5 separate regions of the Homo sapiens genome follow, and regions 1, 2, 4 and 5 are each reported to be linked to region 3. The links are microRNA targets in miRTarBase. Many come from high-throughput screens and were not tested one by one. Region 3 holds a microRNA gene; each other region holds the end of a gene's coding sequence.

Evidence for each region. The annotated mature microRNA hsa-miR-3662 reads GAAAAUGAUGAGUAGUGACUGAUG and lies in region 3 at 4,143-4,166, shown strand. An mRNA with a match to its seed (bases 2 to 7 or 8) in the 3' UTR can be bound and repressed. Matches are read on the target gene's strand: a 7mer-m8 pairs with bases 2 to 8, a 7mer-A1 pairs with bases 2 to 7 and ends in A, and an 8mer does both.
Region 1: the mRNA of CENPK is a reported target of hsa-miR-3662. Seed matches in the 3' UTR shown: 7mer-m8 at 355-361 and 7mer-A1 at 855-861.
Region 2: miRTarBase lists SGPP2 as a target of hsa-miR-3662. Seed matches in the 3' UTR shown: 8mer at 2,430-2,437.
Region 4: miRTarBase lists PNN as a target of hsa-miR-3662. Seed matches in the 3' UTR shown: 7mer-m8 at 4,808-4,814 and 7mer-m8 at 4,051-4,057.
Region 5: miRTarBase lists TMCC1 as a target of hsa-miR-3662. Seed matches in the 3' UTR shown: 7mer-m8 at 1,983-1,989, 7mer-m8 at 3,128-3,134 and 7mer-A1 at 4,685-4,691.

Annotation. Positions count from the first base shown.
Region 1 is chr5:65,514,677-65,518,676 of GRCh38, reverse strand. CENPK (centromere protein K) reads left to right here. Exons shown (of 11, transcript NM_022145.5): 11 at 44-911. The coding sequence ends at 202. Among named protein-coding and RNA genes, the nearest start is that of ADAMTS6, 35 kb to the right of the region's middle.
Region 2 is chr2:222,557,396-222,563,965 of GRCh38, reverse strand. SGPP2 (sphingosine-1-phosphate phosphatase 2) reads right to left here. Exons shown (of 5, transcript NM_152386.4): 5 at 1,345-5,619. The coding sequence ends at 5,068. Among named protein-coding and RNA genes, the nearest start is that of FARSB, 95 kb to the left of the region's middle.
Region 3 is chr6:134,976,951-134,983,520 of GRCh38, reverse strand. It overlaps MIR3662 (microRNA 3662), which reads left to right and starts at 4,089; the gene lies at 4,089-4,183. HBS1L (HBS1 like translational GTPase) reads left to right here. Exons shown (of 18, transcript NM_006620.4): 13 at 959-1,063; 14 at 4,253-4,343; 15 at 4,734-4,842.
Region 4 is chr14:39,180,543-39,187,112 of GRCh38, reverse strand. PNN (pinin, desmosome associated protein) reads right to left here. Exons shown (of 9, transcript NM_002687.4): 9 at 3,893-6,570. The coding sequence ends at 5,250. Among named protein-coding and RNA genes, the nearest start is that of PNN-AS1, 7.9 kb to the right of the region's middle.
Region 5 is chr3:129,646,681-129,653,250 of GRCh38, reverse strand. It overlaps TMCC1 (transmembrane and coiled-coil domain family 1), which reads left to right. Exons shown (of 7, transcript NM_001017395.5): 7 at 1,456-5,459. The coding sequence ends at 1,770. Among named protein-coding and RNA genes, the nearest start is that of PLXND1, 43 kb to the right of the region's middle. RefSeq lists a silencer at 1,351-1,645.

The DNA of each region.
Region 1 (4,000 bases), not on the chromosome of region 3:
TTTTTCCCAAGTAAAGTATATTTTGAATGATATTTTCTCCTAGATTCTTATAAATAGATTATTTGATGTTCCACATGATCCATATGTCAAAATTAGTGATTCCTTTTGGCCACCTTATGTTGAGCTGCTGCTGCGTAATGGAATTGCCTTGAGACATCCAGAAGATCCAACCCGAATAAGATTAGAAGCTTTCCATCAGTAAAAGGATGTTTTCTTTTTTCACACAGTAAAAATTCTTATCATTCAAGGATATTGGAACCACAGGACTATTTGGATAAAAAACATTATTTGCAAATTAATGCGCATAGGCCATCTTACTTTTATTGCAAAATGGCATGTGCTGCCATCTATTATTCATTTTTAAATGGTCATTTCTTATTCAGTGAGTGCTTTAGTGTTTTAAACTATATGGATAAGAATGCAGGTAGATAATATTCTAGGCATAAAACATTTAATGTACCTTACCTCATGCAATATTCTTTGGATTCTTTGTTGATTTATGATATTGCTAATATAATATTTTCTTAAAATATATAACAATATCTTTTATGCATTTTGAGTTCCAGCTGGTGCTTCTTTATATTTAGAAATTATAATGGGAAGGTCATTTAATTTACAGATGGTTTTAAAATTGAGGTAATATCTGAGGTGGCATAATTTAAAAATATTTAGCAAATTTGTTTCATATATACTGTCTTATTTCTAGATTTGTTTAAAATTGGAATATGAAAAACTAATGGATAAAGCTAGCATAAAATTGATATTTTAGTTTGTATTATTAATATATCATGTTACCTTATATATTAATCTACTCTTGATTCTGCTAATTATTACCAACAAAATTGTATTCATGACATTTTATTAATCCTCTGTGAATTTTCTGTAAATAAAATTATTTCTGAAAATCTCTAGCTATTAGTGATGTGGGATATTTTTATAAGTAGCAAATGTTTTTTAAAGGCCGATAAACTAAGATATAGGACTCATTTAGTATTACATAACAAGCTAAACTAGAGAATCCTAAATCCATTTAGTATCATTAGTTTTCTAAGATAAATTTGTTTATTTTTTTACTTGAAAGCGCTTTCTACTGTATATTATCCAAGTCTCTGGCTTACCTTAATTACTTCATATTTTCTAAAGTAAACAAATATTTGAAGTATACCAAATCCCTCTGTAGAAAATACAAATACTATTATATTTTAGGGAACGTAACTCTTTTAGGGGAGGATAATATATAAAGTACCTCCTAGAATACTGCAGTTGGATATTGAAGAAGTGAGCAACTTTTTACTCTTTGAAGTTACTGGAGAGGGAAGAAATGGCAGTGTAGGTCTGACAAGAATTCTTCAGAGCAGGTAGTACTGTTGTCCGTGAAGTACTAGCAAAACACTTTTGGTGTTTGCTAATTAAAACATTAAAAATATGTAATTGAGCCAGACACGGTGGCTCATGCCTATAATTCTAGCACTTTGGGAGGCCGAGGTGGGCGGATCACTTGAGGTCAGGAGTTCGAGACCAGCCAGGCCAACATGGTGAAACCCTGTCTTTACTAAAAATACCAAAAATTAGCTGGGTGTGGTGGTGCACACCTGTAATCCCAGCTACTTGAAGGCTGAGGCAGGGGAATCGCTTGAACCTGGGAGGTAGAAGTTGCAGTGAGCCAAGATTGCGCCACTGCACTCCAGCCTGGGTGACGAGCAAAACTCCGTCTCAAAAGAAAAAAAAAAAGTAATCCTTATGCTTGCAATGCCTACCAATAGACTGTATTCTTCTAAAAGTTTATATGGGGTATGTCAATATGCTTCCAGTTGCTAAATGGAGTGTATCAAATACTTTATTGCATTTTATGACATGTTGACTCAAAAATTAGTAAGTGAAAAGTTGCTAATAGCTTATTTTTAATATTCTTAATACTTTCCCTAGTTTATTGTTTATCCTACAACTTTGTTTTGATGGAATCTTGCTTTTTTTTTAGCATGTAGAGATGTAAAATTTTTAACTTATTTTTGATTATACAAAAAATGCAGATACTACAGATAAAACTGAAATTTCGTTTGATATTTCCTATCCAGGTCCTCTCTGCCTTGGGGTAACCACTATTTGATACATGCTATTATTTTTCATGTTACGTTATGATTATTCTCTTCCATCATTTGACTGTGTCCAGAAGATCATCCATTTTAATGAATCTTGTTTTGCAATAATCAGAGAGCCAATTCACATGATGGTGGATTGTTCGTATCTGTTTAATCCTGGTAAGAGAGCAGAGACAATGGAATTGTACAAGATGCTGGATTAAACTTAGAGAAGGCAGAAAAGTGGAAGACAAGAACAAAAGATCGATTAATAGAAAACATTAACAAATATAGTAATTTATATCAATCAGTTTAAATGTGAGTTGTCTAAATACACAGATACTGCCACAGTGCATTAAAAAACGACTAAACAAGAAATCCACTTTAAATACAGAGATGGAGAAAGATACATCATTTGTTATGGACTGAATGTTCATGTTCCCCTCTTCCCCAGATTTATATGTTGAAGCCCTAACCCCCAGTGCGATAGTGTTTGGAGACAGGATCTTGGAAGATATTAAGGTTAGGTGGCACCCTGACTAACATAAGGTTAGTGCCCTTATAAGAAGGGACACAGAAAGCTTGCTCTCTTTGCCATGTGAAGATACAACTAGAAGGTAGCTGTCTACAAATGAGAGAGCCTTCCCCAGAAATTGACTATGCTGACACCCTGATCCCAGACTTCGTCTTCAGAAATTTGAGAAAATGAAAATTTCTGTTGCTTAAGTCACCTAGTGTATGGTGTTTTGTTAGGGTAGCCTAGATAGACTAACATATGAAACTATACTCATCAAAAGAAAGCTGGAGTAGCTATATTAATTTCATACAAAGCTGACTTCAGAACAAGGAAAATGAGAGGCAATATATGGTGATAAAAGGGTAATTAACTTATTCTTTTCAAAAAAGACACCATAGAAGCTATGTCTTTGACTACAAAGGAATTAAACTAGAAATAAGTAATGAAAATACCTGGAAAATCCCAAAATACTTGTAGATTAAGGAACACACTTCTAAACACATAGGTCAAAGAAGTCTCGAGAAAATATATTTTGAACTAAATAAATGAAACTACAAGTTATCAAAATTTGTGAGATGCGGCTGGAAGCGGTGGTTCATGCCTGTAATCCCAGCACTTGTTGGGAGGCCGAGTCGGGTGGATCACGAGGTCAGGAGATCGAGACCATCCTGGCTAACGTGGTGAAACCCCGTCTCTACTAAAATATAAAAAATTAGCCGGGCGTGATGGCAGGCACCTGTAGTCCCAGCTACTTGGGAGGCTGAGGCGGAGGATGGCCTGAACCCGGGAGGCGGAGCTTGCAGTGAGCTGAGATTGTGCCACTGCACTCCAGCTTGGGCGACAGAGCAAGACTCCGTCTCAAAAAAAAAAAAAAAAATTTTTTTGAGATGCAGCAAAAGCAGTGGCTAGAGGGTAATTTATAGTATTGAGTGCATATATTGGAAAATGTTAAAGATCTAAAATCAATAAGCATCTACTTTAGGAAATTAGAAAAAGCAAATTAAATCCAAAGTAAGCAGAAGAAATAGAGTAGAAATCAATAAAATTGAAACAAAAACAATAGAGAAATTCAGTGAAACAAATGAAATTCAATGAAAAGTTAAAATTTATAAAACTTTTACCATAACAAAAGAAAAAACAAAAATTACTAAAATCAGAAATGAAAAGAGGTGCCATTATTACTCTTCTTGTGAACATTAGGACATTAGAAGGATAATAAAGGAATGATATGAGCAACTCTTGAGTGTACAAATTTGATAACAGATGAAATGGACCAATTTTGTGAAAGACGCAACCTACCAAAACTCACACAAGGAGAAATAACTGCCTTGCATAAACTTATAAAATAAATTGAATCAATTATGAGCTTCCAAAACAAAGCACTGGTCTCAGATGGCTTCACTAG
Region 2 (6,570 bases), not on the chromosome of region 3:
CCCCTGACACAGTAAGAACAACCCCTCCTCTTCCCTCTCTTCCTCCTCCTCAGCCTCCTCAACATGAAGATGAGGATGAAGACTTTTGCGATGATCCCCTTCCACTTAATGAAGGGTAAATGTATTTTCCTTACAATTTTCTTAACATTTTCTTTTCTCCAGTTTACTTTATTGTAAGAATACAATATATAATGCCTATAACATAAGATATGTGGTAATCTACTGATTGTGCTATCAGAAAGGCTTCCCATTGACAGCAGACTATTAGTAGTTAAGTTTTGGGGGAGTCATAAGTTATATGCATTTTTACTGCATAGGAGGTTGGCACCCCTGAGCTCCGAGTTGTTCAAGGGGCAACTGTATTTGAATGAGGAGTGATGAAAGGAGTCTGTGAAGTCACCTCTGGACGTCACCCCCTCTGGGAGGGCCTTCTCACACTTCTTGTTCGTGTGGTTTGATTTTGCGGTGTCACAGCCCTATGCTCATCCTTTATTTCACCACCACCACCACCACTGTTATTCTTACGATCACCAACGTGGTCTGGTTTTTTTTCTTGTAAGAGCTGGAGGTGTTTGGGAAGTGCCTCAGACACGCTGTTCTCTAGCCATGGAGTACCATCTCCTACCTACTTCCCGTCACATTCCCTGTGCAAACCCCATCTGTTCTCTAAACCTCGCTCATGCAGTCTACCCCTCCTCCCAGTTCCCATGTCGTTGTTTTCTCTTCCCTACAGCCTTAACCATTTGGCTCCTGAATTGTAATTCTCTGCCCCTGTGTCTTCTCTGTCCTGCGAAAACTGCACAGGATAGGTTGGAGCTTTACATCTCATATGTCCTGCTCAAAGTACAAATAGAGTCCTAGGTCTGCCCTTGCAAATAAGGGGCAGTGTCAACTGTATGTACCATCTCAAATAGCAAATTTGGGATGCTTAAAGGCAGACCACATCATTGCAGTGATACACTGTGAATTTGAATGACGGTTATGTTTATTTGGTTCAGCAGATAGAGAACGCATCTCTAAAAACCTTTTACTTACCTTAACTAGCAAAACTTACAACATTTACCTTTCAAAACATAGTGACATTTAACTCCATATAAAGTAAAAGGAGGTTCTTTAGTATCATGGAGTAGAGGAGGGGATTTAAGGATGCCAACATGCCACTTCTTTCTTGTTACCACACCTGTGGGTCCTCCAAGGCTCTCCAACATTTGCACATGATTGGATTATGACAAGAACAGAGAATTATGTAGCCTGCCTCTTATTTTTGTCCCCTTTTCAACTCAGGTCCAATGAATTCAGAGAAAAAGATCTACGTTAAGAAAAAAATGCAAGGAAACAGAACACTGGCTTTTAAAGCATTTAATAAGTCAAAATCAAATAAAAGTGATTTTTAAAAAGAATAAATTTACATACAGTACATAAGCAAGACAGCTGAAGGTTTCTAAAATAGAAACCTGGTGCATATGGCCCCAAAACACCACATGCTTTGATTACACTCAGGAAGCATGAGTTGCCTATTTGGGTGAGAAAATCCCATGTTACAGTGCGATCACTGGGCACGTTTTGGAGTAATTCCAGCCACTGCTATGTAAGTGTTTTTAATTCAGGGGTGTCTTCTACGTTTTCATCTTCTGAATATCTTGTGACGGTGCAGGTTTGAGCAAAACTGGCATGAAATGAGAGCTGTTTTAGATGAAGATTGCAAGATGGATGGCTTGGCCCACAGTGGCAGTGGGTTGGGGGTGGAATGTGGACAATTAGGAAAAAGGCATGTCATTCTATCTGGCTCCTGGAGAGGCAGATAGTCCTGGGGGCTTTGGTGTCACAGTTCCCAAAAGCAAGGTTGGCCAGACCATAGGCTTACATTGTGGTGAGCTTGCCTTTTAAATTAATCTCCAAGATGCCAGATCGAGAGGGATGGTGGACCTAGACTGAAGCCAAACCAGTAGGGGGCTCTCTTTCCCCAGAGAGAAACTCCAAATGTCTTGAAAGGAGCCTGAACCATACCCTTTGAAGGGGCAAGCAATGGTCTGAGACAGAGAGAGGATTTAACAGAGCAAAGTGCTGTGTGAGAAATGAATGGAAGAGGGCTAGCAAGACAAGGGTGTGAATCAGGTAATGCCTTTTTCACCCCGATGAATTTTTGTCTGATTCTCACCACAGAGCAGGAGTGCTCAGAAACTGAGGTTGGCGTCACCAATATACACTTTTCATTCTCCAGTTGCAGTAATCAAATACTTTAAAAAGTGACCAACCATGACAAATCCTTGGCTCATTCTTTAATGTGCTGTGGCTGATATATTCATCCTCAGCCCAAATTAGTTAAGTACAGCCTTAAATATATCAATATAGCTGATCGGCCTTCCTATTGTTGGGACTTAAAACTAGAGACAGCAGTAAAAATTATGTATATGATATATATATATATATAAAATGATATATATATATCATATATATGAGAGGCCAGCACCCACTCTGTGACAATGATCACAATCCCTCTTTTTAAAAAATACAAGTGGGAAAAGCTGATCCTTTTGTCAGCTGGCTTCAGACAAGTCAACCACAATTATTTGGTGTAAATATCCAGTGTTGCGAACTCTGGCTGGGCAGCTGTGTGGATGAAAATACAGAAAAGTGCCGCATCCGGCTGACAGCCACTGCTCTGCAGGGGCAGATGAAGGCTGGGAGTACCTGTAAGCTAAGGCCCTTCCCCTGAGTTGTGCTGCAAATACTGGGCAGAGTTTGATGTAAAAGCAGTCAAACGGCAGGTCATCTTGATCTTTGCCTTCTAACTATAATAAATATGAGAAGAATTTTAAGTAAAAACAGGATGTTTTGCTAAAAATTCTTTTTTTTTTTTTTTGAGAGAGTCTCGCTCTGTCGCCCAGGCTGGAGTGCAGTGGCGCAATCTCGGCTCACTGCAAGCTCCGCTCACCGGGTTCACGCCATTCTCCTGCCTCAGCCTCCTGAGTAGCTGGGACTACAGGCGCCCTCCACCACGTCCGGCTAATTTTTTTGTATTTTCAGTAGAGACGGGGTACCGTGTTAGCCAGGATGGTCTCGATCTCCTGACCTCGTGGTCCGCCCACCTCGGCCTCCCAAAGTGCTGGGATTACAGGCATGAGCCACCGCACCCGGCCTAAAAATTCTTGAGAAATTGGAATGCTAAGTTACATACTAAATATCATCCCAACAGTAAGGCCGTAGAACATATTTGAAATCAAGAAAAATGTGATTTTTCGGTTTTAACACGTTAAGAGCCTCTGTAACTTTTAAGGAAGCTATTTTTTTTTCTAGAGTATGCACATGGTGATGATGTGTTGGGTTGATAAAGCACTGGCTCAGTCCTACAGGCACTAAACTTCAATGGATACTTTGTTAACTATAGTTACACTAACTTTAAAGAAAGTTCTTGATACCTGTTCTTTATTCTTAGGAACTGAAGAGGAGGGAACTCCGGTGTTTGCATAATCATCGCCTTCCCATGTTAAGAGGACTCACCCTAGTAGGCTTAATGGGTTTTGTATTTGGTTGGCTTGTTTTCCCAAGAGACACTAAAGTTGTTCTTGCATTAATTCCCCTTAAAATTGCCAAGAGATAAGAGGTGGGAAGACAAAAAGGGCGCCTGATTCTATTCAGTAGATGAGAAAATAGATTTACAGAAGGTAACTGTGAAATTGGAGGAGTAATGTCAGGGAGGCCTTGTCAGGACAGGCAATGTCAAGGAAGCCTATCCCTTCTTTGTCAGACTCCAGAAAGGATTGAGTTCATCTGTTCTTCACAGATCCACTTTCCTAGGCAGATGCCAGTGCCTTCCAGGTTTGTATGAAAGCAAAAAACTGCTGACGATGGGCAGAGGGCCTGTCCCAAACCACTAGGAAGCAGGAGAGGGCAGGAATCTCAGTGAATCCCAGATGTATCCACCTGTGCTGAAGGCTAACCCCCAACCTGTTTGGTGATGTGTGAGCAGCCAGTTGGTTTCATGGGTCAGAAGAGTGTGGTAATGGTACCTGGAATCCTGCAAAATGCATGGAAACAAGGAAGAGCAGATCCTTATTCCAACATGAACAGCAGGACTTATAAGGAAAGCAGGCTTTTCCCCATGACCTCACAGCTCTGCCTCCACCTTTCATCTCTTCACAGTGAGCTTTCTTTCAGAGTGATCTTACCACCCAACCAGGCACAGTCTAATTTGATCATAACAAGGAGGAGGCCGGGCACAGTGGCTCATGCCTATAATCCCAGCACTTTGGGAGGCTGAGGTGGGTGGATCACTTAAGCCCAGGAGTTTCAGACGTACCTGGGCAACATGGAGAAACCCTGTCTCTACAAAAATTAGCTGGGCACATGGTGGTCTATGCTTACAGTCCCAGCTACTCAGTTGGCTCAGGCAGGAGGATTGCTTGAGCCCGGGAGGCAGAGTTTGCAGTGAGCTGAGATTGTGCCACTGTAATACAGCCTGGGAAACAGAGCAAGATCCTGTCTCAAACAAAACAAAACAAAAAATCACCAAATAAACGATAAGGAAGTCACCCTGTCCAAGGAATGCCGTTTCATATGGTGCCACCCCTTCTCCTAGACCAAAGTTCCCATTTTAGAAATAACTCCATGCTAGGCAAGGTTGTAACGGAAAAGAAAGGCTCTACCTCCAGCCTCCCAGATCACCCCATCTCTACTGGCTCTCCAGAACCCAGTGGGGCTCATAGCTATTCCTAAGCCAGGCCACAATTCCTGCCAGCCCATGACTAGATCCAAAGCCCGTGCAACAGCGAGAGGAGCAGGGGCCGGGCGGGGGGGGGGGGGGCGCGGTGTGTGCCTTTAAAGATCCGGATTATGGTCTTTAGCCTGGGTTCAACTGTAGCACAACCAACCACCACGGACGACCAATGACCGCTATGAGACAGTTCTTCCTTTCACACAGCAGCATCATTTATCTGGTAGTAGCAAGACAGCCGTATGACTTTTTGTTGTTGTTAAAGAAAAATAAGTTGTCAAGATTTGCCTACCAATAACTTTCCTATGTCTTGGCTTTCATGTCCAGTGGGCTAGTTTCCAACTGTTTGAGACTCAGGGTAATCCCAGAAACCTGTGAAGCATCGGCACAAAGGTTGTAGCGCAGATGCCAACAGATGTGTAGGTAACAAACTTGTAAGGCACTTCAATCTCCAGTCTCCGCCTGGCCTCCTTGTTCCTGGTGACCACCTTGAACCATGAGTATAATACTTGCAGTGAGAGATTTTGTACAAGCTGACGAACCAAGAGGATCAACACAATTCCCACTGCAAATTTGGTCAGACCCAAAACTAACATGTAGGTGGTGAGTGGTGGGATGTTCTGAATAACAGGGAGAGATTCAGCGGGCTTGGATACAAGCTGGAAGAAATGGTTGATCCAGAATCCTATGGTCACTCCAGCCCCGGCAGCCAGAATGGTGGTGGTGTCCGCCCGGGTTGGGCTGTAGTAATCAGAAACAGGGTAATTGTAACACAGGAAGAATGGCACAACTATGACACACACGGGGAAGAGGGGGCTGGCCGAGTCCAGGCAGTCGATGAAGGTCCAGGCAGGGTAGGTGAGGACGATGAGGAGTGCGGTGATCAGGACGCCACCCAGCACATCCTTTGGGAAGGAGAGAAAAGAACAGTGTGAACCAATGAGTGTTTCCTTGTATACAGGTATAATTTGAATCAAGTATGGCTAATTTGATATTTAAAACACAATTTTTGCATTGTTTTATTTTACAGTACATGTTCAAAGAAAGTGTAAAGTTCTAAAACTTTGAAGTGAAAATACGAAAAAATGCTTCCAACAACCATACTACTCATGTTACGTATCTTCTTTCACCTTTTTTACCTTTTGGAATAAATTCTGTATTTGTTTTCTTAATGAATAACTGTAATCTCATTGTCCTTCAAACTTATATAAATCTAGTATTTCGACACTTATATCACAAATACTGTCACCGTCTTCACCGAGGTGTCACCATCCTTTCATCCACCTGGGGGTTGGGCTGCAGGCTGGCTAAAGGAGGAAGCTCGCTTCTGGGGGAGCCAAATATACACAGCAAGCACATCAGTGTTATGTAGAGGACATGTTCCTTTGGGGTGGTTTGAGGAGACATTTGGATGTGGTAGCACCAAAGTTCTTCTGCGTCAGCCTTGACACTACTACCCCACCTTCAGAGACAGGATTTCAAACAGCGTGCATACAATTTCATTGAGCAGTTGTACCATGCTTTATTTAATTAATCCCATTCTTTAGAACAGTGGCTTGCTTTATTCCATCGCCTCCTTCCTTCCCTGCTTAAAATATCTTTAACTCCTTGATGTCCCACATTTCCCTCTTTCCTTAGTCTTCTCTTTGCACAATATAATTAATCGATTCTTAGTTTCAATACCTAGAGTTAAGCACTTTCTCTAAGTTTGCATGTTTCCATATATTCTTTTTTTCCTATATGTATAATAGAATTCTAAGACTTGGTCTTGCTTTTTCTAATAACTTCATTATTTATTTTTCTTGCTTAGTGTCTAATACAATGACATCTGATTTGGATAAACAATGGGTGAGAAT
Region 3 (6,570 bases):
TTGTCCTTAGTTTCATATCTCACAGTTAATGCATCATCATCTCACATTTTCCCCTTTCTGTCATTAGTCTTCACTTTCCTTACCACTCCAAACTTGTTATTCCTTATTCCCGAATTCTTGAGTTTATTCCCTTTCTGTAGTAAGTTTGTGCATTTGTATCAGCCTCTACTCTAAGACAGAAATACCATCACCTTACTTCTCCGGTCACAATATTTACTGGCTTCCTATTACTTAACTGCAGGATGAAATTTAAACCCTAAGCGTGATTTATGAGACCCCTTTATTATTTCTCCCTTGCCTATCTCTGTTGCCTCCTGTCTTACCTTTTCTTCATTATTCTATATGGTCCCCTCCCCATGGCCCCCACAAGTGACACATGACTCTTAGCCCATCCCACATTTGGTTATGCCTTTGCCCACACAGTTTCCTGGGGCAGCAGTGTCTTCCTTTTTCTCCCTACTCATGCATACAAGCTACCTAATAAACACTTATTCCTTCTTCAGAGTGCCAGATGTCTATTCTCACCATCATGGATTCTTTGGTGCACCTTTGTGTTTCTATTGTATATTTTACATATTATTTGTCTCAGGACAATGTAATTGTTTCCATCTTTCTCTTCACTAGTATAATATCTTTATGGGCAGGGACTTACATTTTTATTTTTTTTTATCCCCAGAGTTTAGTATAATATCTGGTACTACGTATTTATTATTTCTCAATAAATATTTGAGAAAGGAATGAACCTTTCTTTGGTAATATGAGTATTTTTATTTGCAAAAAAAAAAAGTAAAGTGTGGTATGCCATATTTAGTAGAGATGTTAATTCTGAAATGATTATTATTTAATGTCCATTGAACTACTAGTTTTATATGACTACTTGAGAACTAAGTATAGTTAACGGTATTAATCATCAGATAACATTGCTGTATGAACCATAAGATTTTGGTATGTTTTGCAGATCAAGGATCTGGATTTTGCATAACTGGTAAAATAGAAGCTGGTTATATCCAAACTGGTGACCGACTACTGGCAATGCCTCCTAATGAAACTTGTACCGTGAAAGGTATTTATCTGCAAGATGCTTTTGCTAAACAAGCCTTAAGTTGAGACAGCAGATTTTTAAAAAGTGGTTTAGTTACAACTCCAAAGTAAGTAACCTCTTACTGAAATTGTAACTGACTGTCAAAATGATACTGACTGTTGAAGATTAAAATGTGAAAACATTAAACGATTTTTTTCTGTTGTGATTGTGTCTGTATATATATGTACATAAACATTCTAACTGTAGTAGCATTCTATTTTTGACACAGATCTGAGAAGCCTGGTTAGGATTTAATCAGATATGTATAGATACCTCACAGATGTATTTGGAATAATATTCTGTAGCAGAAATTAAATCTAGTCCCAGCCTTACCCTAACTAGTCAGTGGCAAAGCAGCCTTCTACAGTCTGTTACTTTGAAATGTATGTTTCAGAATAACTATAAATTAACAGCTTTGATCATGTTTATGCCAAAAATGTAGGTATATTTTATAGGAAGATATAAGTAACATTCAAATGGAGAAAAACCCAATGTTGAAAAGAGAAATTGAACTAGTTTAAATTGCCAGTCACTGTTTCTGCATATAGATCTAATTTTTTTCATAATGACTGATAATTGTTTCTGTCTTCTAATATATACACACATATATATATTTATGTATATGTATACATGTTATATGTTACATGTACATGTATATTATTTTCCAGATTTTGACTAAAACTTTCTAATTCTATACCTCTTTTATTCTGGCTTCCAACTAAGCCTCTGACTTCTGAAGATCTGTTTTATACTATAAAATAATATTATTTGTAACCATTTTAAGCTGAAGTATAACCTATTGGAAATGCAAAAATTTTTTAGATTTTAGTATTTTTCCCTCTGTTACTCTTAATTTATAGTTTATATCTAGAGTTGTACCTGACTAGTTTATCAATTTGAATGTATATTTTTCTTGAATTCATATGCTCTCTTTAAAAGAAGATTTCTTGAAAAGTTTAAGAAATTAATATCTATTGAAGTTACATGGTTTAACCTATATTTAAAGATGAATAAGGGAATGAAAATCAGTTATTTCCATTTGACCTTTTTATTTGTGCCCACTAGAGATCATGAAATTTCAGTTTTGATAAAAAGTAATATGCACTTTAAAAATAGTGTCATTTTCTATAGATCTGTTCATTGTGTGCAAGTACAGGTCTCTGCTTTTGTTTTTTAAAGTGACAAGAGCTATAATACTTTTGAAACACGATTTTTTTGGTATGTTAATGATCTTTTTTGAGAACAAGAATTTTTTTATGATTAAGAGCCATAAATTAAAACCATGATCCTAAAGTTATCACAGACCTTGAGGTTGGCTCCCTTGTAACCTCTAAAATCCTTAGTCATCTCTGAAAGTCTCACATTCTTTACCCTCCTCTTCTCTGTACTTTCCACACAGAGAAACTCTAAAGTATTATCTTTTATCAGTGTAAGTCTTATCAGAAGCCCCAGGGAAGAACCACCCTACTTCTTGAGAGCCAGTCTTTTAACTCAACAGAGAGGTTCTCCTTCCTCCATTCTAACCTTACTGCTTTTGCTTGGTTTACTTGATTCTTGAAAGCACTGTTCTGTCTAAACATTTTTAGGTACTACTGTGGCTCTTTAACCAGTACTGTCCCAAAAGAAAGACTTGACTGAATCTACTACCAACAAATAGAAATTCTAAATTACTTTTTTTTTTTTACTTTATTAACATATCAAGCTCATAGAGTATTAAAAAAGAGCCTCTTTTTGTAATGTTTGTCCAATGAGAAAAGTTTTTTGATAAATGTCATATGTGGAACAGTGTAACATGATTGAGGGGAAGAAGAACCAGAGAATATAATTACCTTTGGAAAATTTTATACTGTTAATTGAACTTGTAGTATAAAACATCTACAAATGTTTAAGCCAAAGTCAATCTCTATTGTGTGTAAATACCTAGCTTCTGTTTTTAATCCCATATTTCATAGCAAAATTCAGATATGTTCATTCTAAATTTACATTTTAAAATTAAATCTAGTAAGTTGATATTTAACAAACATTCCTTAATACGATAATTGCTAACATGTTTGGGAGGAAGAATCTCTGATACCTGAAGAAAGTTATGCCTTCTTTTCTCAGATTAATGCAGATGTGCACATACATGATATTTTGCATGAAACTCTAGATTGTCTCAGAGCTCTTAAAGTTAAATCCTTGAGCTCCCTAAAAGTCAGAAACTCTCCCTGCTGCATAGAAAATGAGTATTTTCAGAAAGATATGGGTGGATTATAATTTACTAAGAACATGTCAATGTGTCAATCAAGAACTATCCACAGTGGTTGGCCTACACATTCTCTTTGTCAAAAGGCCTACATTTCTATGGAAAGGAACTTAATCCATAAATGTATTCCATAAAATCAGAAAATATGGGATATATTTTAAAAGCCTTTGAGTAAGGTAGCTGAGTATTGCCCTTGGGAACTGCTCTCTCCGACTACCTTCAGGACTATGTCTAGGTAAATAGATGTATATCTCTAGATATATAGCAACACCTAGGATCATTTTAAAATTAAATTTTCTTATCACTATTTCCTTAATATTTTTCTTTTCATATAACTAGTCATTAGTATGCAGATCTCTCTCTGGAAAGAAGTTCTTTTGAGCCAGGAGTAGTTAAGGGGCCTGCTGAGAGGACCGCTTGAAATTCTGACTGAGTGTACATGTCCCATGGGTTACTTGGAAAACAAGGATTATTTGTTTAGGTGGTTGTCTAATTAAAAGCAAAACTCGAGAAGAAAATACTGCTAGACATCTTCTCCAGCCCATCTTTTATGTCATTATGAATAATTTGAACTGTGTTTTATTTTGTCTGTATCCATTAATATGATAGAAATATTTGAATGGGGCCTGTTTAATGAATATACCAATTGTGTCAATTAGTTTAAAAATCTTGATTAAATAAGCAGAAGTCAGCCTTTTATGGGCAAATACAAGTCACTTTATGTTTAGGGTGGTATTCTAGAAGAGTCAGTTCTAGAGGAAGTGTGTTTTCCTCAACGCTCACAGTTACACTTCTTACTCTCAATCCATTCATATTGAAAATGATGAGTAGTGACTGATGAAGCACAAATCAGCCAAACTCTGTTGGTTGTTATGGTTTGATATCGAGGTGTTTCACTGTATGCTTTGGTTCTTACTCATTTCCAGGAATCACTCTGCATGATGAACCTGTCGACTGGGCGGCAGCAGGCGATCATGTTAGTCTTACTTTGGTTGGGATGGATATCATCAAAATCAAGTGAGTGAGAAAATGAGTTTAAGCAACCGTTGTCTTCATATAGGACCTCACCTCTAAACACATATATTTTGCAACCTGCTAGTTCAATTTTGAATTTCATTTGACCAAAAATAGACACCTGTGTAAATGTAAGCAAACTTACTTAAAATTTGAATTAATACATGTCAGCACACATACTTGGCATGTGCTTTGAGTGAAAGCTCTAATGTATAAAAATGACATAAGGTTAATAATGGTTTAAAGTCATGCTTTAGCTCAGAAGAGAATATTTAGAAAAAGTCCCTAATTTACTTAATTGTTTTACTTTCCTTGTAAATGTTTTTGAGGTCTTTCTATTTGATGTAAATTTGTCCCCCAATTACCTTTCCTCTTTTTTTGTTGTTCTTACAGTGTTGGCTGCATATTTTGTGGCCCCAAAGTACCCATTAAAGCTTGCACTCGTTTCAGAGCCCGAATCCTCATCTTTAATATTGAAATTCCTATCACTAAAGGATTTCCTGTAAGTTCCAAAATGTTTTATTATTCCTGTTTTTATAAATTCAAAGTAACTTTATCCTAAAAGTGGTAACTTTCTTTACAAGTGGTGATACTATATTTATTTTGAATTAACATCTTATTACTGTAATCCAGAAAAACTTATAATTAGAAAATCGTTTTTATTTTGTTTTTTATTTTGATCTTTGAGCCTGAGGACTTTTTAAAAGGCATTGAGAAGATATTTAATAATAAATAGGATACAAAGTAATGATAATAAAATTTATCCAGGGAAAAATGATAGACACATTTTCACTGTGTTCTAAAGTTTACTTACTTCTAAGTTTTTCTTAGTTACTTCTAAGTTTTTTAGGTTGAATCATTCTGGGTTTCCATTTTTAATATGTCGATTTGCAGTTTTTCTGATAATAAAAGTTATAGATTGCATAGAAAATTTTGGAAAACTTAAAAATATGGAAAATAAAAATGCCATATACTTGCATAATCCATAGATATATATCTTTACATGTCAGTGTGTTTTTATGTGAGCATATTATCCACCCAGTTGGTATGTATTGGGTGTATTCTGGGGATCCTAGACATACAGTAAATGTCTGGGGATCCTAGACATTCAGTTGTGCTGAAGCAACACATTCAGAACCTGCATGTTGTAAGGTTGGTTTGCCAGCATCATTTGAACATATACATTTTATGGGAAGAGGGAGATTTTATACAATAATGTTACTTATCCTGAAAAGCTGTTACTTGTGAATAGTCTGGATTTTTTGTTTTATGTGTAATTGTTTTGAGATATTTGGGACCGTACTCTTATAGTTTTTGTACTTTGCTTTTGTCACGTGACAGATGACCATTTTTCCCATTAGACTTTTTTTTCTAATTAGCTCATATAGTACAGATTCTGCATGACAATAAATGTTTCTCAGTGATGTTTCTACCATTTGATGCATCTTTGAAATAAAAGTAAGAGTTTTTAAAGTTAGTGATAGTGGTTTAGAGGTTGGCAATACATTTATTTGGGTCATTTATACTGATACACCTATATTTGAGATAACCTTGTACTTTATAATTCTTTGTAATTATTTCTATATTAATTTGATCATGTAAAATTATATTTTAAGGTACTATTTAGGTACTTTACTTACATAATTATATTCCATTTCTTCCATACACTAGAAAAGAAAAGCTTCTTTTAAAAAAATTGCTATAGTTGAAGATACTTAAATATTCAGAATTCATGTATTGATCATCAAGTAACAACAAGTTAATTGTTGTGAGCGAATGGAACTCATTCACAGAAAGCAGTATGTCCTATGAGGCAAAGGAGGGGTTGGTTACTGCATATTTTTACTCATGCAATAATAATATTTGCCAATGGAGAGGTAGAGGGATGAAGAGGTCAGAAGTGACTTTGAATAGTAATACTGTCTCCCTGACTACTGTAGTTTCTTAAAAATAAGCATGAATTGCAAGTTTTTCACTGTTGCTTTAGGAGATTCTGCCAGCATATATTGATTCAGAAATACCAGGATCAAATTTGTTTCAGAAAAATATGGCCATATTTTGTCAGTCTACTCCCTATGGGAGAAAAACTTGAAAAAAAATTTTTTAAGCAAACAAAGGTTTCCTAAGCTATTAAAATTTTACTGTTTAGGGACTAATGCCATAATACTACATAAATATATTTAAATTTTCCCTATTTTGTATGGGAAACTCTATTTCAGTAGCTTTTGGG
Region 4 (6,570 bases), not on the chromosome of region 3:
AATAAAAGATCATTCCTTATAGTTAACGTGCTGGCTGTCAAAAAGCAAATTTTTGGAAAGGTCAGGATTGTTTGATGTAGAGTCCAGAACATCACAAATGGCAGGTCTTAATACAGAAAACTAGACGAAAGGATTGTGATTTGAGGGAGGGGTATCTGGATGAAAAAGAAGTCTGAGAGTATGAAAGGCAACTAAATTCACATAAATAAGAAATTAGAAGAGAAACAAAAGCCCTTTTTAATCTTCATTATATAATCTCAGTTCCTAGATAACTTTGTTCTTCATCCATCAAAAGAGATATATAACATATTTAAAGAGGTAACACTAGTTCACTAAGACAACAAAGATTCTTAAAGGGTTGGGCTGTATCTGAAATCTCCAAAAAGGCTGAGTAATTTGACAAAGAGCCCCAAATAATTTTGATTCCTCCATACTCCTTTTCAGATCTACTATGTACAAGGAGCACTCTGGTCACCCTTTAGCTGCACAGCACACAAAATATTTACAAAAAATGTCACAGAAACTGTTGTTTCCATTATTTGGAAGAAAACGAGGACAAATTTCAGGATGTGACTTGGCTCATTGTTTCAAACATATTTGGATGTGCTGAAAGAGAGGAAAGAAAGTGGGAAAGAGAGACCAAGCCACTTAACACCAAGGATTTTTTTTTTTTTTGATGGAGTCTCGCTCTGTCCCCCAGGCTGGAGTGCAGTGGTGCCATCTCGGCTCACTGCAAGCTCCGCCTCCCGGGTTCATGCCATTCTCCTGCCTCAGCCTCCCGAGTAGCTGGGACTACAGGTGCCCACCACCACGCCTGGCTAAATTTTTTATATTTTCAGTAGAGACGGGGTTTTCACCATGTTAACCAGGATGGTCTTGATCTCCTGACCTCATGATCAGGGGCCCGCCTCAGCCTCCCAAAGTGCTGGGATTACAGGCATGAGCCACCGTGCCCGGCCAACACCAAAGATTTTGGGACAGTCATGGCAAGGAGTGGCAGCTATTACAAATTTGAATAGGGTAGTCAACTGGCCATGGAAAGTGGAGTTGCAGGCATTTGAGTATCATCATTTTTTTTAGTATAATTATTTAAGTTCCTTTTTTGAAAAGATTGGCTGGACATGGTAGCTCACACCTGTAATCTTAGCACTTAGGATGGCCAAAATGGGAGGATCGCTTAAGCTCAGGAATTCGAGACCAGCCTGGGCAACAGGGCAAGACTCTCATCTCTATTTAAAAAAAGAAAAAAAAAAAAAAGTCCTGCTAGCTGAGACAAAGACAGGCGTAAGAAAAACATTCTCAGATACCTCGTTTATTTTTACCAAGTTGTAGTCTCTACCCCACTGGCTTACTAGAGTAGTGGTATTGAATCAAATACATAGCTACATTTTCTGGGCTATGTGATTTAATAACATTCATTTTAACCTCAAAAAGGGAAAATGGGTTGGATTTGTCGTTGGATTTCAGAAGATATTTTAAAGTTTGACTAGTCATAAAAAAATTCTTACACAATATTAGCCATAAAAGAAATTCTTGTTTATGTACTTTAAACCCACATCTTGACTGACTCTAATAGCATTGGCCCATGTAATCACTACTCTCTTTCCTTTTGAATTTATGTCAATACATTATTGGTATGGTGGCTTTTGCTTTGCCCAAATTACCTGAGTAATCATGTAAATTGTTATCATTCTACAGATAGTGTGTAGAAGGACCCTAGATTGGAAATACAGCTCATTGAAGTTCAAACTATCTTTATTTTGGTGGTTACCCAAACCTTGGTATCTTAAAAGATGTTTCCTTAATAGCCCCTTAGACATCTCTGCCAATTTTTTTTTTAGACAGTCTGTCACCAGTATGGAGTGCAGTGGTGCCATCAAAGCTCACTATAACCTCAAACTCCTGGGTTCAAGCAATCCTCCCACCTCAGCCCCCGAAGTAACTAGAACTACAGGTACACACATGGCTAAATTTTTCTATTTTTTGTAGAGATAGATTCTTGCTGATGCCCAGGTCAGTCTTGAACTCCTGGCTTCAAGCCATCCATCCTCTACCCTCAGCCTCCCAAATTGCTGGGATTACAGGTGTGAGCCATAGCACCCAGCCTGTCTTTCCTAATACAGCTCTAAACTGATTTCAGTCCTAACTCACCATCTCTATCCCCTTTCAGCTCCTAAGTTTTCCATAAACACTATTTGGGTTTTTTTGTTATTTTTTAGACAGGGTCTCACTCTGTCACCCAGGCTGGAGTGCAGTAGTGTGATCATAGCTACTTCACCTCAACCTCCTGGGCTCAAGCAATCCTCCTGTCTCAGCCTCCAGAGTAGCTGGGACTCAGGCTCATGCCACCACAATCGGCTAGTTTTTCTCTTCGTAGACAGTTTTTTGCCATGTTGCCGAGGTTGGTCTCTGGCTCCTGGGCTCAAGCAATCTTTCCACCTCAGCCTCCCAAAGTGTTGGGAATTACAGGCCACTGCACTCAACCATAAACACTAATTTGTAATCTCCAGTAGGAAGACTACTGCGTGTTAGCCGGGCGCCGTGGCTCATGCCTGTAATCCCAGCACTTTGGGAGGCCAAGGCAGGCGGATCACGATGTCAGGAGTTCGAGACCAGTCTGGCCAACACAGTGAAACCCCCAACTCTACTAAAAATACAAAAAAAAAAAAAAAAAAAAAAATTAGCCAGGTGTGGTGGTGTGCGCCTGTAATCCCAGCTACTTGGAAGGCTGAGGCAGAATTGCATGAAGCTGGGAGGCGGAGGTTGCAGTGAGCCGAGATCGCACCACTGCACTCCAGCCTGGGTGACAGAACGAGACTCCATCTCAAAAAAAAAAAAAAAAAAAAAGACTACTGCATGTCTTTTCCCCCTGGGAAACTGTCATTACTTTTACATTCTTCTTCCTTGTGTCTCTTCAAGTGCAATTCCATGGTTCTCTGAACATTAAGTTCCATAAAATTTTAGTTCAAGGATAAAGCACTGATCGGAAACAAAAAAATCTAAAATACTATATTTAAAAAATTAAACCTTCCAACCTAAAAATGAATACCACTTAAAAATGTTAGTACAATCTGTTATTAAAATTCCTGTGCTCACTTCAGCAGCACATACTAAAATTGGAACACAGACCAAGAGTGGTGGCTCACGCCTGTAATCCCAGCACTTTCAGAGGCCAAGGCAGGAGTAACGCTTGAGCCCAGGAGTTCGAGACCAGCCTGGGCAACATAGTGAGATCCTGTCTCTACAAAAAATAAAAAATTAACTGGGAATGGTGGTGCACACCTGTAGTCCCAGGTACTTGGTAGGCTGAGGTGGGAGGATCCCTTGAACCCAGGAGGTCGAGGCTGCAGTCAGATTGTTTGTGCCACTGCACTCCAGCCTGGGTGACAGACTAAGACCCTGTCTCCGAGAAAAAAAAAAAAAAAAAAAAAGATTAAAATGGCCCCTGCACAAGGATGACATGCAAATTCATCAAGCATTCCATATAAGAAAAATTCCTTTCACATACTATGATCAGTAGCGCTTAACTGAAATTACTGAAAATTACTTTCCCCTCAAGCATTCATTATACCCCCATTACTACCCCTCCTATAGTAGAGCTTCAAGCCAATACTAGCCTTTTCTGTAAGCAACATGAATATTGTTCAGATTTTCCAGGTACAAATCAGTAGACAAAACTTAATTTGTATAAAGGATTTTAGTGCATACAAACTGTCATCAAATAAGGTGCTTTTTAACCAGGTTAAATTTTATGATCATCCCTTTAATTCACTATTTACCAACCTCTTTCCTGCCAGGGCACACAGGAAATGAAACATTTTGCTGGATAAGCCACAGATGAAGGTACTAGTGGTGGAACTGGCTCATGGATACAGATTGCTGTGCAAAGCTCTATGCATTTACTGTTTTAATAATTACTCCAATAAAAGGATTTTTAAAAAGAGATCTTTTAACACATCCACTTACACAAGTGAGTTATATACACACAAAAACTAACTGGAAATACTTCTTCACATTTTCACTGTAACCATTTACTTGTCAAGGGAAGGCAAAATGAATATTCAAAGTCAAGGCTAAAGCTACAGTGTTAAACTCAAAGAAGGATGCAATTTAAGTGCTCTCTTGTATAAAGCATCAGAAAGTTAATACAAGTACTAGTCTTAAGCAGTCACACAAGTCTAAGCCACATTTATTTGCACATGTATAGTAATGGCCAACAGATACTCCAAGTTCATACAAATTTGTAAAACAACAAAGTTAATAATCACTTGGTACACTTGTGTGTTATCTTGCTTACATATTAAAACCTAGATGAACTTCCTTCATTTTGTGGACTTCCATACAATACTTCCTTAAACAAAATTCTTGAAAACACATATCAGCATGTTTAAGTTAGAGCCAACACAAAGTTAAGACAAGACACAAACTCAAAAACCAAGTTTGAAAGATACTTTTCTACCTCCCTCCCCTAGAAAGAAGTGATTTTCTTTAACAGATGTATGTTATATCACACAAGTAACCATGAAGACAAAAGAATGACGCTCCCATCATCAGGAAGAAAATGCCAACCAGATCATACTGTTTAGTTATCTACCGAACATATGGTTAAAATATGAGAAACGGGGGAAAATGCTTAGATTAAAATAACAAGGGAGAATAGAAAATAGCAAATGATTTTAAAGAGAACTGTTCCCCCTCAAAGCTGCAAAGCTCTGACTCTGACAACTAAAAACTGTCCAAGGCAAATAAAAACGAGGAAACCTTCAAAAACATTCTAATCACGTGCAGTATCTAGTGTTAAAAGCTGAAAATGATAAAGAGGATATTTATTATACAAGTGTCAACGAGGACATCCCAAAAATAATGAAATAAACACACATTTATTTCTACAAAAGCAATGTATGATACAGAATTAGAAGGGAACAGACTTAAAGATTTGCCTATTAAAATATACAGATTCTTACTGAAGAGTATAGGATATTTAAAAAAGATGACAAGGGATGTTAATCTTTTTTTATTATTATCATTTTTACATATTTTGGAACCTCACATAATTTTGATAAATAACTCTTACAAAATTATGCAAAAAGTACAAGAATGTCTGGTAAACAAACAGTCTGTATTTTCCAAAAAGATTTTTTACAACATGCAATTCTTAAGGCAGCATCCTCTTTACAAGGAAAGGTAATCCTTTTTTATCAAGAAATCTTCTGCTGCAAAGAATGGCTAAGAAAGCCTGGCTTCTTCCATTAACGCCTTTTGTCTTTCCTGTCTGATTTTCGGTCTCTTTCACTTCTTGAAGATCTTTTGCCTGATCGACTACTCTCTGATATAGACCTCTTTCTGTCGGACCGGGAATTCTTATCCTTTGATCCTTTTGTATCTCTACTACTACCACCTTTTGAAGATTTGTGACTTCTTTCTAGTCCTGAAGTATCCCTTCTCTTCCGATCCACGCTCCTTCTGTGCTTTCTATCTCTATTATGTCCCCGGCCCCTACTCCGACTTCTACTCTCACTACTACTACTAGTGCTACTGCTACTATCTCTGCTGCTGCTGCCACTTGTACTGGAGCTGCTACTGGAACTACTGCGACTGCTACTACTTCCACTGCTGGAACTACTTCCACTGCTGCTACTGGTTGAACTGCTACTAGAACTGCTACTGCTACTGCTTCGACTTCTACTCTTGCTTGTTTTATTTCTAGCTCGACCTCTACTTCTGCTCCTAGTTTTGGTTTTGCTCTTGCTCTCTGGATGTACTGTCAAGACTGGCTCTACTGGTACCTCAGTGAGTTTTACAGACTCTACAGGAAAATCCTTCCTCTCAGGTAGTAAATGCCCTTGCTCCTGAGTAACTTGGGGTGTTGGCTGTAAAACAGCTAATGACAAATCCTCAGGCTGAGAGGGAGGCTGGGACTGGAGTACTGGTTGGGACTGGGATTGAAGCTGAAGCTGGGGCTGAGACTGAGGCTGAGGTTGAGCCACAGGCTCAGGTTGGGGCTCAGATTCTTTTTCTTCTTTTTCCTCAGACTCCTTTTCCATGTCTAAAGCACTGACATTCTCTTTCCCAGGAGAAAGGGTTTTACATTCTTTATCTGGCTCAATTTCAAATTCCATTTCTGGTTCCAATTCTTTGCTAGCTTCATTTTCTGAAGGTTCTACACTTTCAACTCGATTAGTTTCCATTACCTCCTGGTCAGCAATTACATGTTTGACATTCTCAACCATCTCTAGCACATCCATAACTTCTTCAGGCTGACTATCCTGCTGCTTCTCACTTTCCCTTACCTCAGTTTCCTCCTCCATCTTAACCTCCATTTCCTGTTTTTGTTCTTCCTCCTCCTGTTCTTTCTCTGCATCACTATGAACAATCGCTATTTCCTTTTCCTCTTCCTCTCCTGCTTCCTCTATTTCTACATCATTGTGCTGATTACCTGTCTCCTCCAACTCTTCCTCTCGCTGAGCCACCTTACCCTCTTCTTGTTCCGCCTTCTGTTCTTCATTACGCACCACCTGATGCTCTTTTTCCTTCATTGATTGTCTTCTAGGCCTAGCCTCCATTTTATTT
Region 5 (6,570 bases), not on the chromosome of region 3:
TGTTATAGTGGAAAAGTTGAAAACAACCTAAAAATCCCCAAGGGGGAACTAGCTGCATATATTATAACATAGCCTAGCCATACTATAAAATGCCAGGCAGCAGTTAAAAAAAAATGAGGTAGATTCTGTGTATTGACATGGAGAGATCACCAAGACCCACTGTTGAATGAAAAAAAAAGCAAGTTGTGAATCGATTCCTATAGTGTGATACTATTCCATGTTTGGAAAAGCCAAACCCTGTAAAATATTTTAAAGAGGTTTATTCTGAGCCAATACAAGTAACCATGGCCTGGGGAACACAGTCTGAAGAGGTCCTGAGAAAATATGCCTGAAGCAGTTGGGTTACAGTTTGGCTTTATACATTTCAGGGAGACAGGAATTGTAGGTAAAATCCTAAATCAACACATGGAAAGTATACATTGGTTTGGCCCAAAAAGGTGGGCCATCTCTAAGTAGGGGCTAACAAGTCATAGTGGGCTTTAGGAATTTTTTAGCTGGCAGTCGGTTGAAAGAGTTAAGCTTTGTGTAAAGACTTGAAGCCAGTACAAAAATGCCTAAGTTAACGGAGTCTGTTGTCTGTCATGTGATGCTATACCTGAGTCAGGTTGGAAAGAAAGCCACATTAACACCAGTTAATTTTTTTAAAAACTGATGAGATTTTATGGTTTATAGGGTGAGATTTAACCTTGTCTGGCATGGCCTTAGGTCTTGTTTATAATTTGATGTCTTACTGCCACAAAGAGTCCATTCTGTCAGTCTTATGATCTCTATTTTCACATTAATGCTGGTCATTTGTGCCACAACTCAAAAAGGGAGGGGATATAATAAGGCATGTCCAGCCTCTTTCCCATCATTGCCAAGAACTCACTTTTTCAGGTTTCTTTGGGGTCCACTTTGGCCAAGAGGGAGTCCGTTCATTTGGCTGGGGGTCTTAGGATTTTATTTTTAGTTTACAGATAGGAAATAAAAATAATAATTCCGTATATTTTCCTTGACACATATATGCATACACTTACACACATAAAAGGGTGAACACAAACAGTACTGCCTCAGGGACAGGGATTGGAATTGAAGGAAATGTCAAGAGAGACTATCCTATTTGAAATTTTTTATGTTGAACAAATATATTCTGTGCAACTTAGATTAATTTTCAATGAAAAAAGAGCATATATTTGTGGTCTTGTCATTAAAATGTTCTAGACTAAATAAATGTTAAGTGTGGCCACTGCTTCCTGTGACTCATCCCACTGGAATGCAGTGGAGGGCAATTTGGGGGAATAATAATCACTTGAATAGTGAGTTATACATCTAGCCTTTTACATTCATTCAAGGCTCCAGCATATTTATAAAATCATTGGCATTGCTCAAGATGCATCTGGCTTGCCCAGGGGGCATGTCAGCATCTCAGAATACTTGTGAGCAGAAGGCTTAACTCTTCCCTGTTCTGGCCCACAGGAGGCCCTGGAGGCATGCCAGACGCGCATCTCCAAGATGGAGCTGCAGCAGCAGCAGCAGCAGGTGGTGCAGCTAGAAGGGCTGGAGAATGCCACTGCCCGGAACCTTCTGGGCAAACTCATCAACATCCTCCTGGCTGTCATGGCAGTCCTTTTGGTCTTTGTCTCCACTGTAGCCAACTGTGTGGTCCCCCTCATGAAGACTCGCAACAGGACGTTCAGCACTTTATTCCTTGTGGTTTTTATTGCCTTTCTCTGGAAGCACTGGGACGCCCTCTTCAGCTATGTGGAACGGTTCTTTTCATCCCCTAGATGATGCTGGCACAGAAGGCATTGTTCCCTACCCTCTGGCGAGTGCATGCAGCAGAGAGTTAGACAGCAACTTACCTACTCTGAAGTTTTCTACAACAAAAAAAGAGTTGAGTGAATCTGTTTACATTTAGAATAATGTTTTTTTCTTCAAGAGACGCAATTGCAATAGTATTTTTTAGATTTTATCCAAGAAGTTTTTTGGGCGAAAATCTTGGATCATTTTTATGTAGCATGATTTTCCTTGGGATGCAAATCTTAAAACAGTCCTTTAATATGAACCAACAATCTGGAGCACACCGAAGGGCAATCTAAATTGTGGCTTGAAGGACTGCACTAAAACCCACTAAAAAGATGCGAAAACCTGATGAGGGCAAACCAGTTAAACCTAACACCCTGCCTTGTCTGGGCTCATCACCTCTCCCTATCCCAGACTAACTTTACTGTGAAATCCTACCACATTCCATGTCTGAATTTTTGGATTCGGGGTGGATTTTCGTTGTCCGTGGAAGAACACATGGATCTCTCTGGCTTTCTCACCCAAGTTGGCCACTTACGCTAATCCTGGAAGTATGATCACTTTTGAACCTGCCCCTTAACCTTGACGAGGATACAAAAGTGAAAGCATCATCCCCCAAAGGATCACTGCACAGTCCTACTACAGTATTTTTAAGTAGCCCTCTAAATACTTAATTTTAAGCAAAATCCCTTGGCCGCACTTTTAAGGTTTTTTTATATGTGTATAGTTACCAACCTAAAAATAAAAAATCCGAACAGCATACTTGAAGAATGTAATACTCAAACTCTCAGTGCTTCCTTATGGTTTCTAATAGGATTTTTTATTATTGTTATTATTATTATTGGGTTTTTTTGGACAGGGTTGGGAGGGTCTTTTATTTTTCCTTTGAAATAAAGAAGTGATGTTTTTAAATGAAGAAATGTGTGGATATTTAAGTGTGCTGCTCCCTCTTGTCTTGAAACAGTTTGAGTAAGAAAGTCTTGCTGTAAATGCTGCCCTCTGCCGCCTTTGTTTTGAGATGCAGTTTAAACTCCCTCTGGCTGCTGCTGCTGCTTTTTGGTGTCCCGACATACCTACGCCCCCGTTTTATGGGTTTGGCTTAGTTGAAGAGGAAAGGGTTGTGCAAGGAGAGCAGGAGGCTGTTTCCAAAAACCAGTGTAGTAGGATAGGGATTTTTTTTTTTTTTTTTTGCCCCAAGAAAACGTTCACCCAGTGATCTTGGGCTGGGGTTGTCTTTAGGAAAAGTTGAGACTATAAGAGTCATAAATAAGTCCTTGTGTTTCCTTAATTTATTTTGTTAACACCCCTAATTACAACCAAAGTGATGATGTGGAGTCTTCTGTCTTCATTTTGGCCCCAGCATTCTTAATTTCAAAGCTTTATTCTGTCTGCCTAAGAGAATCAACCAAAGGTGATTCTCCTAAAGAGCAGTGAAGGAAATGTCAGGTTAGCAGGACCCAAGTTTTGGGTGTGAAATGTTGCCAGCTTCCTATAATGTAAACGGACTTGTTAACCTAACCTAATTATGCTCAGTGGACTTCTATAGATGGTTTTGAAAAATGAACTGAGCTGCCTTCCCCCGTCGCATAACCAGTTCCATCATCCTGGTGGAACTTGAACATTTAGAGTTTATCTAGAGAGCTTGGTTAATCTTTCCATATTATTTGTAGTATTGGTCACAAATGCTGTTCCCTCTTAGCCTCATTCTGTGCAACCAAGTGCATATAAGATGCCCTGAAAAGAGTAACAAAGTATGCTTTGCCTGTTTCCACTTACCAGGAAATTCCTTCAGAACTAGATTAGCATTGCCCTGCCTGTCTGAAAGGACAGTTTACCTAATGGTGCCAGCCTCCTTTTGCTTTGGCAAGCTGGATTTCTCAGAGCCAGCATGTTGTTTCCATAACTACTTTGATATTTTAACTCAGGTACTCCAGTCTTCACCCCAACCTCAGCTGATTGTAGTACACCTGCTAGCTCTGTTGCCCCCTCAAAACTGCACCCAGAGCAGGGCCACAAGGGTGCTTTTTTTCTTTAAAAAAAAAAAAATTAGAACCAATTCATGTTCATGCCAAAAACAAATTGTCCCCAAGCCTATATGTATTAAAATGTTAACTTTGCCTAAAAATATTGCAGTGACTTTTTAGGCAGGAGTGCCAAAGGACACTATGAACTTTTTGAACTGACAGTTTCTCCTAACTTTCTGCTTTAGCGTAATTGCTCAGAGTAGAGAGCCCCCACAAAGTTATTTAAAAGATGCCCTAGCAGCAATCCACCAGTTTTTCTAAGCTAGAACCTTTGAGTCCCCCAAACTGCCTGAAGACTTAAGTTTTGTGGGCACTGGAAGTCACTTTGATAGATGGATTGAAACTGTTCCTATTTGCCCTGGGACGGTTTCTATCTATCAAAGGAAGGTTTTCACCTGTAGAAAGCCCCCTGCCTCCAGCCAAATAGTCCCATGCTGACTTTCTATCTTCCTTTCTCAAACTGTCTTAGGAAGGACCTTCAGTGCAGATCAGGTGCAGTAATGGCTTTCTTGTCCCTTAATTATTCACCAGACCCAGAAGTTGTACGCATTTAATGCTGTTTGTAACCATGCATCTGTTTTCATTCTTTGCTGTACCTTTTGCTGCCCATCCTGTTACTTTTGAGTTTCTTTCATTGTGGTTGTTCTTGGGTTCTTTTGTCTTGTCAGAGCTCTTCTATAACCTCGCTCTAATGGCTTAACAGTTGTTCTGGGTGGAAACGTCCCCTCATTTGAATGCTCCTCTAAAAAAAAAAGAAAAGAAAACTGTATTCATTCCCTTTAAAATGAAACATTCCTGGTTTATTTGTCCATGCCTCTAGCCTGGGTGAGTGAAGCTGGCTGTGTTGGCCTGGGTGATTGTTCAGGTTGTAGAATGCGCATTTTACATTGTTTATGATAATTGAAGGGTACTTCTGTCTGCTCCAATTTCCATTCCTTGGTATACTCAGTATGTCCTAGTAAGGAAGGCTTTCCACTCTACTGGCTCCTTAAGAAGCAAAAGTAGGTTAAATTTTATACTTCACTGACTAGGGTCTTCTCTCTCCCCTGTTCTGAATGGAGTAAAAGTCTGATGCCAAGACAAATATTGGGAGCGAGCCTTCCTCACTAGCCATGTCCAAATAATGAGCGTATTTTCATGTGGTCTTCACTGCATTTGGTTTTGTTTCTGATTTCATGTTCCTTTGAGGTACAGTCAGATGAAAATGCTGAGTTCTGAGAGAGTTCCAATGAGGAGCTGCCTTTCAGCTTTGGAAAATATGCAACTAAAACAAAACCAAACATTATTGTAATCTGACACAGGCAAAATTATGGTTCCCACACCCCAACCCCAAATGAAACCTGGGATTTTGAATGTGGCTCTAAGAGTTAACATTGCTGTCTGTATGTCGTGTATGCTAGGTGATATCCTCAGTAGGGATTGACTACTAGACTGTGTGTTTTATCAAAGTGTGTAAGAATAAAAACTCACTTGCACGAATTGAAACGTAAAGAAATGACACTTGTGAACGTGTGAACGTTAACACTGTAGTTGATAGATCTTAAGCTGCTAATTGTTGAGAGAGATTTAAATTTATGTTCTGTCTGGTCGCTGCAGATTCTCAGCAGCACTTTTACTGTATATAGAAATTGAAATAAAGACCTCAGCTATTAACCTGGTGGTCAGACTCATGTTTGTTTTGCTTTTTATTTTTGAAACATTTAACATATGTAGTTCTACATGCATGTAATGCATTATTATCCAGCCTAGTGCCACCTGTAGTTTTGTTATAAAAGTAGTAATTTCTATTAGGACTTTTTCCTGATGATCTCTGGGAGGCCTCTGGAAATCCTGAAGTCCTAAACTTGCCTTTGACCTGGTACCAAGCAGAGACATGATGATTCGGTCCTTCACAGCTCCAGTCTGAATGTCGAGAGCTTTAGTCCCACTTCTGGCTTGCTAGCTGTGTGCCTCTTACCCCATGTATAAACTAGTGATACCACACCACCCAACTTGATCCTACAGGTGGATGTTGTGAGAGCAAGGGATACATCTTGTGAAATCTTTGAAAATTCCCCTTAAAATATGGGCCAGGCTGCCATGTACAGATATGCAGGTTGTATATTGCCCAACCCTGCGGGGGCTTCATAAGTCTGATAAACTGTGAACAACATCCAGGAGTTGTGTAGTGCATACGGGACACATAGAGCTGCCATGATAATGGGCGATACATAATTTCAAAACCTGCTTTATTTTTATCCTTTAAAAACCTTGGAGACTTACTGAATGCCAGTAAAAACTGGGTGTGGTGGCTCTCACACCTGTAATCCCAAAACTTTGGGAGGACAAGGTTGGAGGATTACTTGAGGCCAGGAGTTTGATACCAACCTGGGCAACATAGTGAGACCCCTATCTCTACAAAAAATAAATTTAGCTAGGTGTGGTGGCAGGCACCTGTAGTCCCAGCTACTCAGGAGGCTGAGGTGATAGCATCACTCGAGCCCAGGAGTTTGAGATTACAGTGAGCTATGATTACACCACTGCACTCTAGGCTAGGTGGCAGAGCGAGACCCTGTCTCAAAAAAAGAAAACTTCAGAGAGTGGAAGGCAGATGACATAAATTTGAGAAGCTGTGGTGTAGAAAACAGATTGGGGAGGCAGAGGAAGGTATGGTCAACTAGAAATGCATGCTTCACCTGAAGGGTTCAAATATACTTAAATCCTATGGTCCAAACTAAACATTTAGCTGACTTGTAGCCCCAAGTCTATAGTGAAGAATAGCTAA